Linked DNA regions of Homo sapiens: all the other regions are reported to be linked to region 1. Evidence: microRNA targets listed by miRTarBase, many of them from high-throughput screens and not tested one by one. Region 1 holds a microRNA gene; each other region holds the end of a gene's coding sequence.

Region 1 (4,065 bases):
TAGATGCAGTCATACAGATGTAGTCTCTTGTGTCTCACTTCTTTTGCTCAACACAATGTTTTTGAAATTCATCCATATTCCCCGTCCGGGAGGGAGGTGGGGGGGGTCAGCCCCCCTGCCCGGCCAGCCGCCCCGTCCGGGAGGTGAGGGGCACCTCTGCCCGGCCGCCCCTACTGGGAAGTGAGGAGCCCCTCTGCCCGGCCACCACCCCGTCTGGGAGGTGTACCCAACAGCTCATTGAGAACAGGCCAGGATGACAATGGCGGCTTTGTGGAATAGAAAGGCGGGAAAGGTGGGGAAAAGATTGAGAAATCGGATGGTTGCCGTGTCTGTGTAGAAAGAAGTAGACATGGGAGACTTTTCATTTTGTTCTGCACTAAGAAAAATTCCTCTGCCTTGGGATCCTGTTGATCTGTGACCTTACCCCCAACCCTGTGCTCTCTGAAACATGTGCTGTGTCCACTCAGGGTTAAATGGATTAAGGGCGGTGCAAGATGTGCTTTGTTAAACAGATGCTTGAAGGCAGCATGCTCGTTAAGAGTCATCACCAATCCCTAATCTCAAGTAATCAGGGACACAAACACTGCGGAAGGCCGCAGGGTCCTCTGCCTAGGAAAACCAGAGACCTTTGTTCACTTGTTTATCTGCTGACCTTCCCTCCACTATTGTCCCATGACCCTGCCAAATCCCCCTCTGTGAGAAACACCCAAGAATTATCAATAAAAAAATAAATTAAAAAAAAAATGTAAAAAAAAAAAATGTAAAAAAAAAAAAAAAAGAAATTCATCCATATTATTGGATGTATCAATAGTTTGTTCCTTTTTATTGCATAGTAGCATTCCCCTGAATGGATATACCACAGTCTGTTTATTCATTTACCAGTTGATGGACATTTGGGTTACTTCCAGTTTTGGATGATTTTGAGTAAAGTTGCAATGAACATTCACATACAAGTCCTTGTGTGGACCTACGTCTTCATTTGAGAGATTTTTTTCCTTTTAAACTTTTTATTTTATTAGGTTGGTGCAAAAGAAACTGTGGTTTTTGCCATTACTTTCAATGGCAAAAACCACAATTACTTTTGCACCAACCTAAATCTTCCCTCTCTCTGGATTTGCAATTATTCTGTAAATCTAAAGTTAACTTTAGCTAAATCAGGTTGACATCATATACCCCCTAAAGTTAACTTTAGATTTACAGAAGAGTTGCAAATCCAGAGAACCCCCCGTAGTCTTCATCCACCTTCCCCCAATGTTAATATCGTACTAATTATGATACATTTATCAAAACTCAAAAATTAACATGGGCACAGTTGTATTAACTAAACTCCCGACTTTCTTCAGATTTCACCAGTTTTTTCCACTAATGTCCTTTTTCTGTTCCAGGATTTAATCAGGATATAATGTTGCACTTAATTATTATATCATAATAGTCACTTTCAATCTATGTCAATTTCTCTGTCTCTCCTTGTTTTTTTATGACTTTGACATTTATGAAGTGGGCTGGTCAAGTATTTTGTAGGATGTCCCTCAATCTGGATTTGTCTGATGTTTTCTGATCATTAGACTGCAGTTGGGGTTTGGGGAAAGAATACCCCAGAGGTGAAATGGCCTTCTCATCACATAATATTAGGGGGCACATGATATCTACCTGATTGCTCACTGGTGAAGTTAACCTTGATCACTTGGTTAAGGCGTTGTCTACCAGAGTTACCCACCGTAAGCTGCTAATTTCCCTTTCCATACTCTGTTCCAGGGGTGTCCAATCTTTTGGCTGCCCTGGGACACATTGGAAGAAGAATTGTCTTGGGCAACACATAAAATACATCATTAACACTATGACAGCTGTTGAGCTAAAAAAAAAAAAAAAAAAAAAAAAAAAAAAAAGGACCGGGTGCGGTGGCTCACACCTGTAATCCCAACACTTTGGGAGGCCGAGGCGGGTGGGTCACGAGGTCAGGAGATCGAGACCATCCTGGCTAACACAGTGAAACCCCATCTCTACTAAAAATAGAAAAAATTAGCCGGGCGTGGTGGTGGGCGCCTGTAGTCCCAGCTACTCAGGAGGCTGAGGCAGGAGAATGGTGTGAATCCAGGAGGAGGAGTTTGCAGTAAGCCGAGATTGCACCACTGCACTCCAGCCTGGGTGACAGAGGGAAACTCTGTCTCAAAAGAAAAAAAAAAAAAAAGGTCTGTGCATAAATATCATAATGTTTTAAGAAAGTTTATGAATTTGTGTTGGGCCACATTCAAAGCTGTCCTGGGCCACGGGTTGGACAAGCTTACCGTCTATTCATTAGAAGTGAGTCACTCAGGGGAGGGAGATTAGGCCCTGCCTCCTACAGGGAGGGGTTTCAAAGAATTTGTGGACATATGCTAAAACCAGCACCATAATTAATGTGGTATTTTTTTTTTTTTGACGGAGTCTTGCTCTGTAGCCCAGGCTGGAGTGCAGTGGCCTGATCTCGGCTCACTGCAAGCTCTGCCTCTCAGGTTCATGCCATTCTCCTGCCTCAGCCTCCTGAGTAGCTGGGACTACAGGTGCGCACCACCATGCCCAACTAATTTTTTTGTATTTTTAGTAGAGAAGGGGTTTCACCATGTTAGCCAGGATGGTCGCGATCTCCTGACCTCGTGATCCACCCGCCTTGGCCTCCCAAAATGCTGGGAATACAGGTGTGAGCCACCGTGCCCGGCCAATTAATGTATTTTTATTATTTTAAAAGTTATTCTTATTTTTAGAGATAGAGTCTCACTATGTTGCCCATGCTGGTCTTGAACTCCTGGGCTCAAGCTGTCTACCCACCTCGGCCTCCTAAGTGCTGGGATTATAGGCGTGAGCCACTTTACCTGGCCTGCTTGTTTTTTTGAGACAGAGTCTCGCTCTGTCGCCCAGGCTGGAGTTCAGTGGCACAATCTCGGCTCACTGCAAGCTCCACCTCCTGGGTTCACGCCATTCTCCTGCCTCAGCCTCCCGAGTAGCTGGGACTACAGGCGCCCGCCACTACATCCGGCTAATTTTTTTGTATTTTTTTAGTAGAGACGGGGTTTCACCGACCTCGTGATCTGCACGCCTCAGCCTCCCAAAGTGCTGGGATTACAGGTGTGAGCCACCGCCCCCGGCCCTGGTGTGCTTTTTAATATTTTTTGGAGATGGGGTCTTGTTATGTTTCCCAGGCTGGCCTTGAACTCCTGAGCTCAAGTGATGCTCATGCCTCAGCCTTCAGAGTAGCAGGCATTACAGGTGCATGCCACCTCACCTGGCTAATAAATGTTTTTGGAGGGATGTGTTGAGCCTATGCAGGTATCCTGTTTCCCCTTAAAGTTTGCCCATGAACTTAACATTCCTCAGTGGACCCTGCCTGCAGCTATTATTACTGTAATGTTCTCCTGGTGATTTTCTATTCTCCCATGCCTTCTGCCTTTATTACATGGAATTCTTCTGTAAGGGAAATTTGTTTCTTCTCCAGGTATTTGTTTATCTATCCTCTCATTTATTTATATCAGTGTGGACTCACAAGTACTTATTTTATTCTCTGGGTGAGAGATGTTTTTAAGATGGGAAAATGGACTACTTTAAGTTAACCTAACTGTGAGCCAGGTAGCAGGAGGTGTGGGGAGGAGGAGCATAGATGCTGGGGGAGGAATGGGCGGTGGATGGAGCGAAGTTCCTAGGAAGGTCAGTGAGAAGGAGATCCGGAGGTGGGGGTCTTGGCAAAAACAAGGGACACCCTGTTCCCACAAATGGGTAAGAGGAAAGTTTGGGAGGGTCGATTTCCATGTCAGGAAGGAGAACTTGAAGGAGTTCCAACTAATTAGCTTTTGTCTTCTCCGTCAAGATGTTTTCTGTGACGACAATGGGAAGTTGACTTTTGGAATTTTAATTGTCTTGGCCAAAATTCCTGGCCTCTAGAGTAACGTTTCTCAACCTCAGCCCTGCCGACATTTGGAGCAGATAATTCATTGTTGTGGGAGCCGTCTTGTGCATTGCAGGCTGTGTCGCAGCATCCCTGGCCTCTACCCTCTAGATGCTTTAGTGCCCTCTCCTGTTTCCCCAGCAGTGACC
Region 2 (4,065 bases), not on the chromosome of region 1:
ATGAATGGTAAAACTAAAAGCAACCATTTCTCTATCCTCGAGTAAGCAAGCCACTTCCCTAGATGTCTTTGCTTCTAAGGGAGGTTGCGGCAGAGGCTGGATGGGGGTGCAGTGGGACACCTCAAGGTGGCCTCTGCATTTGAATGCTGCGCTGCTGGCTACTCGCTACTTAGGAGCCCAGCTGCTGGCTGCTCGCTACTTAGGAGTGGCATGACCTTCATTGTGTCCAAGCCCTGGGGACACAGCAGGGAACAGAGAAAGCACCTCCCTCACCCAGCTCACATTCAACTGGGACACACAGGAGAAGTAATAAAACCCCACACCCTTTGCTCAGAGATATGAAGAAAATATTGAGGGCATGATGGGCCCGTGGGCAGGTGGCTATTTCAGGAGTGACATCTGAAGAATCAGGTACCAGCCACAGAAGAGGGTATCAGGTCAAAGGAGCAGAGAGTGCAGTTGAGACTAGAAAGGCAGGAGCTGAAAGAAGACAATGGATGACCCCTCGTAGCCATGGCCCCTCCTTTCTCTGGTCTTCAGGATGAAATGAGACAACAGAGGAAAGGTGCACACACATGCCCAGGAACGGGAAGCTAACATTCTTCTCACTTAAAAAAATGACTTGGAGGCTAGGCACGGTGGCTCACACCTGTAATCCCAGCACTTTGGGAGGCTGAGGCAGGCGGATCACCTGGGGTTGGGAGTTCGAGACCAGCCTGACCAACATGGAGAAACCTCATCTCTACTAAAAATACAAAATTAGCTGGGTGTGGTGGTGGATGCCCGTAACCCCAACTACTCGGGAGGCTGAAGCAGAATTGCTTGAACCCGGGAGGCGGAGGTTGCAGTGAGCCAAGATCGCGCCATTGCACTCCAGCCTGGGCAACAAGAGCAAAACTCTGTCTCAAAAAAAAAAAAGACTTGGGAGGCCAAGGTGGGTGGATCACCTGAGACAAGGAGTTCGAGACCAGCCTGGCCAACATGGCGAAAACCCCATCTCTACTAAAAATACAAAAATTAGCTGGGCATGGGTGGTAGGCACCTGTAATCCCAGCTACTCGGGAGGCTGAGGCAGGAGAATTGCTTCAACCCGGGAGGCTGAGTTTGCAGTGAGCTATCACACCACTGCACTCCAGCCTGGGTGATGGAGACTCTCCCTCCAAAAAAAGAGGAGAGTCCAGGTGCCATGGCTTACACCTGTAATCCCAGCACTTTGGGAGTCTGAGACAGGCAGATCACTTCAAGTCAGGAGTTCAAGCCCAGCCTGGGGAATATGTGAAACCCTCGTCTCTAAAAATACCAAAAAATGAGCCAGGCATGGTGGTGCACATCTGAATCCCCAGCTACTTGGGAGGCTGAGGCACCAGAATTGCTTGAACCCAGGAGGCGGAGGTTGCAGTGAGCTGAGATTGCGCCACTGCACTGCAGCCTGGGTGACGGGGCGAGAATCCGTCTCAAAAAAAACAAAAAATGAGAATAACTTGTAGACAGTCTGTCTTCCTGTGAAGAATGAGAGGCCCACCCTGACAGGGCTCCTGTGCCCTGCTCACCATCTGTCCCCAGTAACTGAAACTGTGCATGGCTAATGACAGGTCCCCTGTAATACTTGAGTAACTGAACGATTGTTGTCCCCATTAGGATGCAAGTTTGATGAAGGCAGGGACCCGACTCCTTGATGGCACCATGGGATCCTCAGTGCCTGGACAGTGCCTGACGCGATGTGTGTTTGCTGATTGGCAGGAATGAACTTATGCCCACGCGGGCCAACCTCCCCTGCCGGCCATGTCATGTCTTGGCCCTTGGCACAGGAAGGGGTTTGTGGAGATCTTTTCTGGGGAGTTACTGGATTGCAGAGAAGGAACACTGCTGCCCAGGAAACCAAACCTCAGCCTTTCAAGCCGGCTTCATTCTACTCATACCCTGTGCACCTCCAGCCAGGCCCAGAGCCATGGACCAGGGCACCTGCGAGGGGCTGGGATCCTTGCTGCCCACGCGAGGCCTGTTAGCTCGGCCTCCCTACGGGCTTCAAGAAGACAACTCCGTCCTCTCCCAACTGTTTGACGAGGACTGGCGTGGGGGGCACCCACTAGGGCCCATTCTCTCCAGTGTGCCCACCACCTGGCTGTGGGGGGTGTTCATGACCTCTCACGGCCCCTTCTGTGTTTGGTCGTGCAAACCTGACACAGCCATCCCGACCAAATGGAAAACTGCAAATTCGAGGACGACCACGGCATTTTTCCAAAACAGTTTAATTAAAAAAAGGTAAAGAAATCTGAAAAAACTGGGGGGGTGGGGGAAGGAACGGGCAAACCCAAAAAAGCATATAGTGTGAGTCTACTGGCTCAGTCACAAAGAAACACCACCATCAAAAAGATATTTAAGTTTAATACAAATTTTATACAAAGAAAATGTGAAAAAATACTTCCATATGCTAAAAGCAATTATGCTTCACAAATAAGGCCAGCTAGGCTATTTTTTTTTTTTGACAACTGCAATTCACAAATGTTCTTTCTCTCCTGTTTTCTTCTAATACTCTCTTATTTCTTCTCTAATATGGGTAACTAGCTGGAAACTGTACAGTTCGCATCCTCTTAACAATGAAGAGAAAGTAAACAAGACTAAAATGTACAACAAAACGTACTGGAATGATATCGTACAATTAATTTTCTCATATACATACATCACCTTTTGCTTTTTCATCAATGCTTTTTGTTTTACACAACATACAAAATGGCTCTACAGCATACGTAGTGTACGGACAGCATGACGGGCCTTGCTTTCTCTCATACTGCCTGTGTTTCATGCTTACATAAAAACGTGAAATTCCATCATATAAATAATACGTACATGCTTCATCCCAGACTCAAACGTCCTCTGCGTGCACCTTGCCTTTGAGTCCTTGCTTCCAAGAAGCACAGCATCTCTGACCAAGTGTGTGTGAGTGTGTTTAAAGGAACCACAAAGCAAAGATAAGGTTTCTCTTTTTTTCAGAGTTCATGATCCTAAGACTTTCTGTGTTCTCTCCTGTGACTGAGCTGAGTGGGGCTTGTTTGTTTCTCTTCTGTAAACAAGGATATTGTTTTTTCCCTTTTAGGAGTAGAGTCATCATTTCAATCACATGAAAGAAACTAGCTTCTCCCTGTGTCCGTCTGGTCCGGAGAGCTTGCGTTTTAGGAACGTGGTAACGTAGTAGCTGAAAGGAGCCAACGGCTTGATGGGATAGTCTGTGCCGAAACTCCCGATCCCAACATGCTGCGTACAGACACACGAGCGAAAACGGTTCGCCCTCCCCTGGGTATCCAAGGATGAGGACGTGAGTATGAAAGTGGTCCCCGGGCCCAGTATCCATTCCGTCGTGTGACAGACAGGCTAACTGACCATCCCTTCTCCAATACCAAAACATTCTTTTTTGTTGTTGGGGTTGGTTGCTTTTTTTTTTTTTTTTAAATCGTTTTTCTTTTTCTTTTTTTTTTTTTAATAAGTTAAAGTTAATACAAATATAAAAAGGGGAAAGTCCTCTAGATTCAATGACATCCACAAATTGTACATTATTTACACCAAAAGCACAGGGCTCGTGTGGGTGAACAGTCTGCAGTCAAAGCCGATGCTGGGTGTCCTGTAGTGTAGCAGCCCCCGCGCCGGGGGCTCAGGCTCAACTGAGGGTTTTGTCATTTTCAAGTCTGAAAGTGGCTGTTCTCCTGCCTTTGTTGTTTCTTCTTTTCCTGGCGTCTGGGTTTTTCTCCCAATGGGGTGGGTGGTTTGTGTCCCGATTCACTGCTAGTCCCAGAAGGTGTCCAGCCGAGACTCTTTCGGGAGGAGGCTCTTCGTGCTGGTACTGGTGTTGTGATCGGAACGTGTCGATCCCCTCTTCTCATCACTGCTGCTCCAACTGGATTTATTACTCCGGGAATGGTCTGAGGGGGAAAACCAATGTGTTTAGCGTGCCTGCCCACCTGCGCCTGAGCACAACTATCCTGCAATCTGACCTGCCCCTCCTGCACAGGAAACCACCTTCCCCTCCCAATTGATGGTTCAAACACTGCCACCGCTGACTGCCCTGCATCT
Region 3 (4,065 bases), not on the chromosome of region 1:
TCCTTGTCTTCCTCCCAGCTCAGTCTGGATGACTTCCAGCTCCAACCACCTGTAACCTTCCGCCTGAAGTCGGGCTCTGGCCCTGTGCGGATCACTGGGCGGCACCAGATTGGTGAGAAGAGGGGAGGGCCCTCTCCTTTGCTTCCAGTGGACTCTCCCATCAGGCTTCCCCCACTCCGCACTCCTGCCCCATCCCACCCTCATCTCCCAGTGCAGCCCTGTACAGGTCTGTGTGCCCTCCACGCTGTGCCCTGTGCATGACATGCCCTCTCCTTTCCGTCTACTCAAGCCTACCTCCTCCATGGAACATGGCCCAACTTCTCCAGCTCCAATAATGAAGACTCCTTTGGCTCTTTGTGACCCAGTTTAGGGTCTGAGGTTCTTCCCACCTAGCCCATAAGCACTGGGAGGTCATGGTCCCTGTAAGCCTAACACCACGGCGTGAAGAAATGGCATGCGGTGTGAAACGGTCTGGTCTTAACACCCCATCCTTCTACTGCTTGTGTGTCCACCAGTTACGATGAGCAATGATGTTTCTGAGGAGGAGAGCGAGGAAGAGGAAGAGGACAGTGATGAGGAAGAAGTTGAGCTGTGCCCCATCCTTCCTGCCAAAAAGCAGGGGGGCAGGCCCTAGCCCTCCTAGGTGAGTTGCGGGGAGAAGTGCCTAGCAGGCTCTGGGAAGGGGCAGGAGAAGCAGGTGAGGGCCTAAATGCTGATTCCTTGTTTCCTCTTTTCAGGTCAGCTCCATGTGCCATGCACCGCCATGCACCCTGTTCCCTGACAAGTTTCAACAATTGTAAATATTTCTTCCTTGAAGAGGAGAGCTTGGGTGGGGGTTGGGTGGGAGGGACTTGGGTCTTTGGTGCTAGGAGAGGGCCTGTGCTCCACACAGCCGTGGTTTTCTGATTTTCACCATGCCCGGGGCCTCCCTTCCCACCTGCCTGTGAGAATTGGAGGTTAGTGCCTGAAGCTCAGAGCTACACATTTTTAATAGTTTTTACATTTTTGGATAAAGGTTGAAATAAAGTGGTGTGGAGTTTTTGCAGCTCTTGTGTGGCTTCTTCCTGTGCTGGGTGATGTTTCCCTAGGGACCGCCAGGTGGCACTGTGGAAGCACCCAGCGTGGCCCTGGGCCTGGGGGAGGGTGGAGAACTGTGGGATCCTCTACCCTCATGGCCCTGGGCTAGGACCTGGGGCCTGGGCCCCAGTTGCCTTGCTGGAAGGGGACCTCCCAACACTCAGCCCATTCCCAGTCTCTGCAGGTGGGAGAGGGTCATCGCAGGAGGTTATCAGCATCCAAACAAGGGGTCTGGGCCTCTGTCAGCACTCGGCTGATGGGCAGGGGGGCAGATAAGCGAGCTTAGGCAGCCTGAGGAATGCGCGTCCCTAGCCCCACGAGGGTCTCTGGCCCAGAGAGGGCCTGTGAGGGCAGGGCGGGACCAGGCTTCGCTCCTCCTTTGAGCCTTGCAGGCTGTCTCTGAGCAGGGCTGGGCCCTTAGAGAAACCTGACTCCGGGGGCCAGATGGAGGGGACTGGCCAGATTGGGTGACAGGGAAACCAGAATCCGGGTGGCCTGGCATATGGGGGCAGAAAGGGGCCCCAGGGAATTTGCCTCCTGGACTAAGGGATTCTTGTCCCCCACACACCGTGGGGTCTGGGGGTCTTTGGTGCCTGGAATCAGGTAGTTCTGGCACTTGGCTGCCTTTGTGCCAGGAAGAACTGACACACCTGGTTTGAGGATGAGTGTATGTGACCAGCTCTGGGGTCAGCAGTTCAGCAGCTGTGTTGGTTGTGGGGGGAGGGTTGTCAATGCCCACAAACAAACAAACAAACAAAACATTGCCTCCCCAGACAACCTGGGGCCAGACAGGCTGAGGATAGACAGAGAACAGGGCCTGATGGGGGTCAGGCCAACTCCCACTCCCAGCCTCTAGTCAAGGGGGAGGGGCCCCGGGATATCGCGGGCTGGTGGTTCTGGGGCAGGTGAGGTCAGCTTTGAAGACCTTGCGTCCGCAGTACCGACCCGCACGCTCTTCAGCGCATCCCTAGTGAAGGAGGTTCTCCCCCAGCCCGTGGTGAGGAACTAGGGGTCCAGTTTCCAACCTCCCTCTTCCTCAAGTTGAGGACAAAGGGAGATGACGCCCGTCTGTGTTGCGGTGATCTGGGTCGCAGGCGCCTTTCTCCGATCCAGGAGGGCGCTGCTAAAAATGCTTCCCTGGGGAGCCCGGCGGAGGGGCGGCCTGGCTGGGAACCATGGGTCTCGCTGCGGAGCGCGGTCGGCAGGGAGAGGGAAGTCGGGGCTGGCGCCCTCTGGCGGGCGAGGTTGAAGCCGCTCGTGGTCGTACCGCTTCCCTGGCCTCTAGAGGCTCCGGGCGGGCGCCGTGGGGCCGGGGCCTCCGAGTCCCGCCACTGCTCTGGGCGGCCGAATCTTGGGCGGAAGGCGGGGGAATGCCACTGAGGCTTGCATGCATGCGTGCATACGTTCATTCATTCATTCGAACGACTTGAGTTGGAGTGGGGAAGTCTGGCTGTGGCCCTCACTCCTCTTTCCCTTCCTCTTCTTGGCCCCAGCCTCCAAAGTCCTCGGCACGTGCTTGGCAGGAGGAGCGGGAGACTGGCTGAGTCCTCTCTCCTGGGAGGCCTCCCTAGCTGACCCATCTACCCCCTGCGCGGCTCCGCCCCAATATTTACCCCACCCACCCCCCGCGATGCCACTGATCGCTCCTTGCATTTCTCGCCGGTTTTCCGGGTAGGTCTCCCGGTGGGCGCGGGCCTGCGCCGAGCACGCTCCTGCCCGCAGTGGGGGCCCAATCCACATCAGCCTCTCGGCCCAAGAGTTTCTCGGCCGGTTGGGGCGCCCCGCGGACACAGCTGGGCAAGGTTTATTCCTCTCTCCTCGCCCCAGCCTCTCCTCGAGCCCTCTTCTTTGCCCTTCAGCGCACAGTAGGAGCGCTGCCGGCTCACTGTGGCCTCAGACCCCTGGGGGATGAAGGCATACGCCGGGGTTTGCCGACTGCTGGAGGAAGGGCAGGCTTCTATTTGGGGGCCGAGGGAGACGACTCCCAGACAGTGGCCGAAGTGCTTAACGTAGTCTCGGCGATTTGCATTTGAACGGTCGGCAGTGAGTCCGCGGCGCTTTGAACGCCCGGCGCAGGAAGCGCGCGTCGGAGCGAGCTGCGGTCTCCGGCGGGTGTGGATTGGAGGGGCCGGGGGATGGGCTGGGATCGAGGGGTGCGTTTGGAAATAGGCTGAAGTAGTGTGTCTGGGTGCAGGCGAGGGCGTGTCTGCGGAGATGGGCCGTTTGTGTTGGCGAGGAGTGTGTGTTTGTGTTTGCAGGCGAGGGAGTTTGTGTCTGTGCGTGTGTGTGTTTGTGTTTGCGGAGTGTGGGGGCGGCCAGGAAAGGTGGCCGGGCTGTCACTCAGCGATCAGGTTGACAGGCGCTCCCTCATCTGGGCCAGGGAGCTCTGATTGCAGATTCGAGGAAACAAAATAGCAATTGTAATTACCGGGCTTTGATAAGATAAAGGAGGGAGGGAGCTGGCCGGGAGGCGGGCGAGCCAGCAAGGGAGGGAGCGGCCTGCGGGGGCCCGGCGGGACATTTGCATCTGTCAGTCACGGGGCGTGCCAGGGCAGAGCCAGGTGCTTGCTCCCGGGGTGTCCCCATCTGCTCCTCTCCCCCAGAGAAACGGACTTTTGGGGAGATGAGAATTTCAACGAACTAGGTGAGGGTCCGCTTCTCAGGAGGGTCTCCAAATCCAAATGTAAAGGAATCCTGGTCCAGCACAGGCTCCCTGGCAGAGGCTGGGACAGGACTGAAACTTGACCTCGGACCCTTCAGATCCCAGGACGCCCATCTTCTCTGGGGCAGAGGAAGAAGGGTGGCTGAAGACCATTGAGGGTCAACCCAGGGCCCTCAGAATCTTCTGGGGGTTCCACAGCTGGAGCTGAATGCTGGTCTCAGCCAGGGGCTCTGCCCCTACCCCCATTCCAGGGAGGGGCAGGTACCCAGAGTGGCTCTGGCTGTGACCCCAGGACCATGCAAACACTGTTGGATGGGCGGGTCACC

Evidence for each region. Region 1 holds the annotated microRNA hsa-miR-548d-5p (AAAAGUAAUUGUGGUUUUUGCC, at 1,062-1,083, opposite strand). A microRNA usually pairs through its seed, bases 2 to 8, with sites in the 3' UTR of a target mRNA and lowers its output. Matches are read on the target gene's strand: a 7mer-m8 pairs with bases 2 to 8, a 7mer-A1 pairs with bases 2 to 7 and ends in A, and an 8mer does both.
Region 2: miRTarBase lists ZMYND8 as a target of hsa-miR-548d-5p. Seed matches in the 3' UTR shown: 7mer-m8 at 2,606-2,612.
Region 3: the mRNA of NPM3 is a reported target of hsa-miR-548d-5p. The part of its 3' UTR that is shown has no 7-base or 8-base seed match.

What each region holds. Positions count from the first base shown.
Region 1 is chr17:67,470,479-67,474,543 of GRCh38, forward strand. It overlaps MIR548D2 (microRNA 548d-2), which reads right to left and starts at 1,107; the gene lies at 1,011-1,107. The region is part of intron 1 of PITPNC1 (phosphatidylinositol transfer protein cytoplasmic 1); the gene reads left to right. MIR548AA2 (microRNA 548aa-2) reads left to right here and starts at 1,011; the gene lies at 1,011-1,107.
Region 2 is chr20:47,206,984-47,211,048 of GRCh38, forward strand. ZMYND8 (zinc finger MYND-type containing 8) reads right to left here. Exons shown (of 23, transcript NM_001281775.3): 23 at 2,231-3,914. The coding sequence ends at 3,778. Among named protein-coding and RNA genes, the nearest start is that of MIR3616, 42 kb to the left of the region's middle. RefSeq lists a silencer at 102-396 and enhancers at 1,213-1,838, 1,839-2,462.
Region 3 is chr10:101,778,305-101,782,369 of GRCh38, reverse strand. It overlaps NPM3 (nucleophosmin/nucleoplasmin 3), which reads left to right. Exons shown (of 6, transcript NM_006993.3): 4 at 19-112; 5 at 516-643; 6 at 738-1,045. The coding sequence ends at 634. It also overlaps a transcript of FGF8 not described here. Among named protein-coding and RNA genes, the nearest start is that of NPM3, 3.1 kb to the left of the region's middle. RefSeq lists enhancers at 924-1,218, 1,097-1,947, 2,025-2,154, 1,795-2,692, 2,693-3,590, a silencer at 2,375-2,454 and a promoter at 1,064-4,065.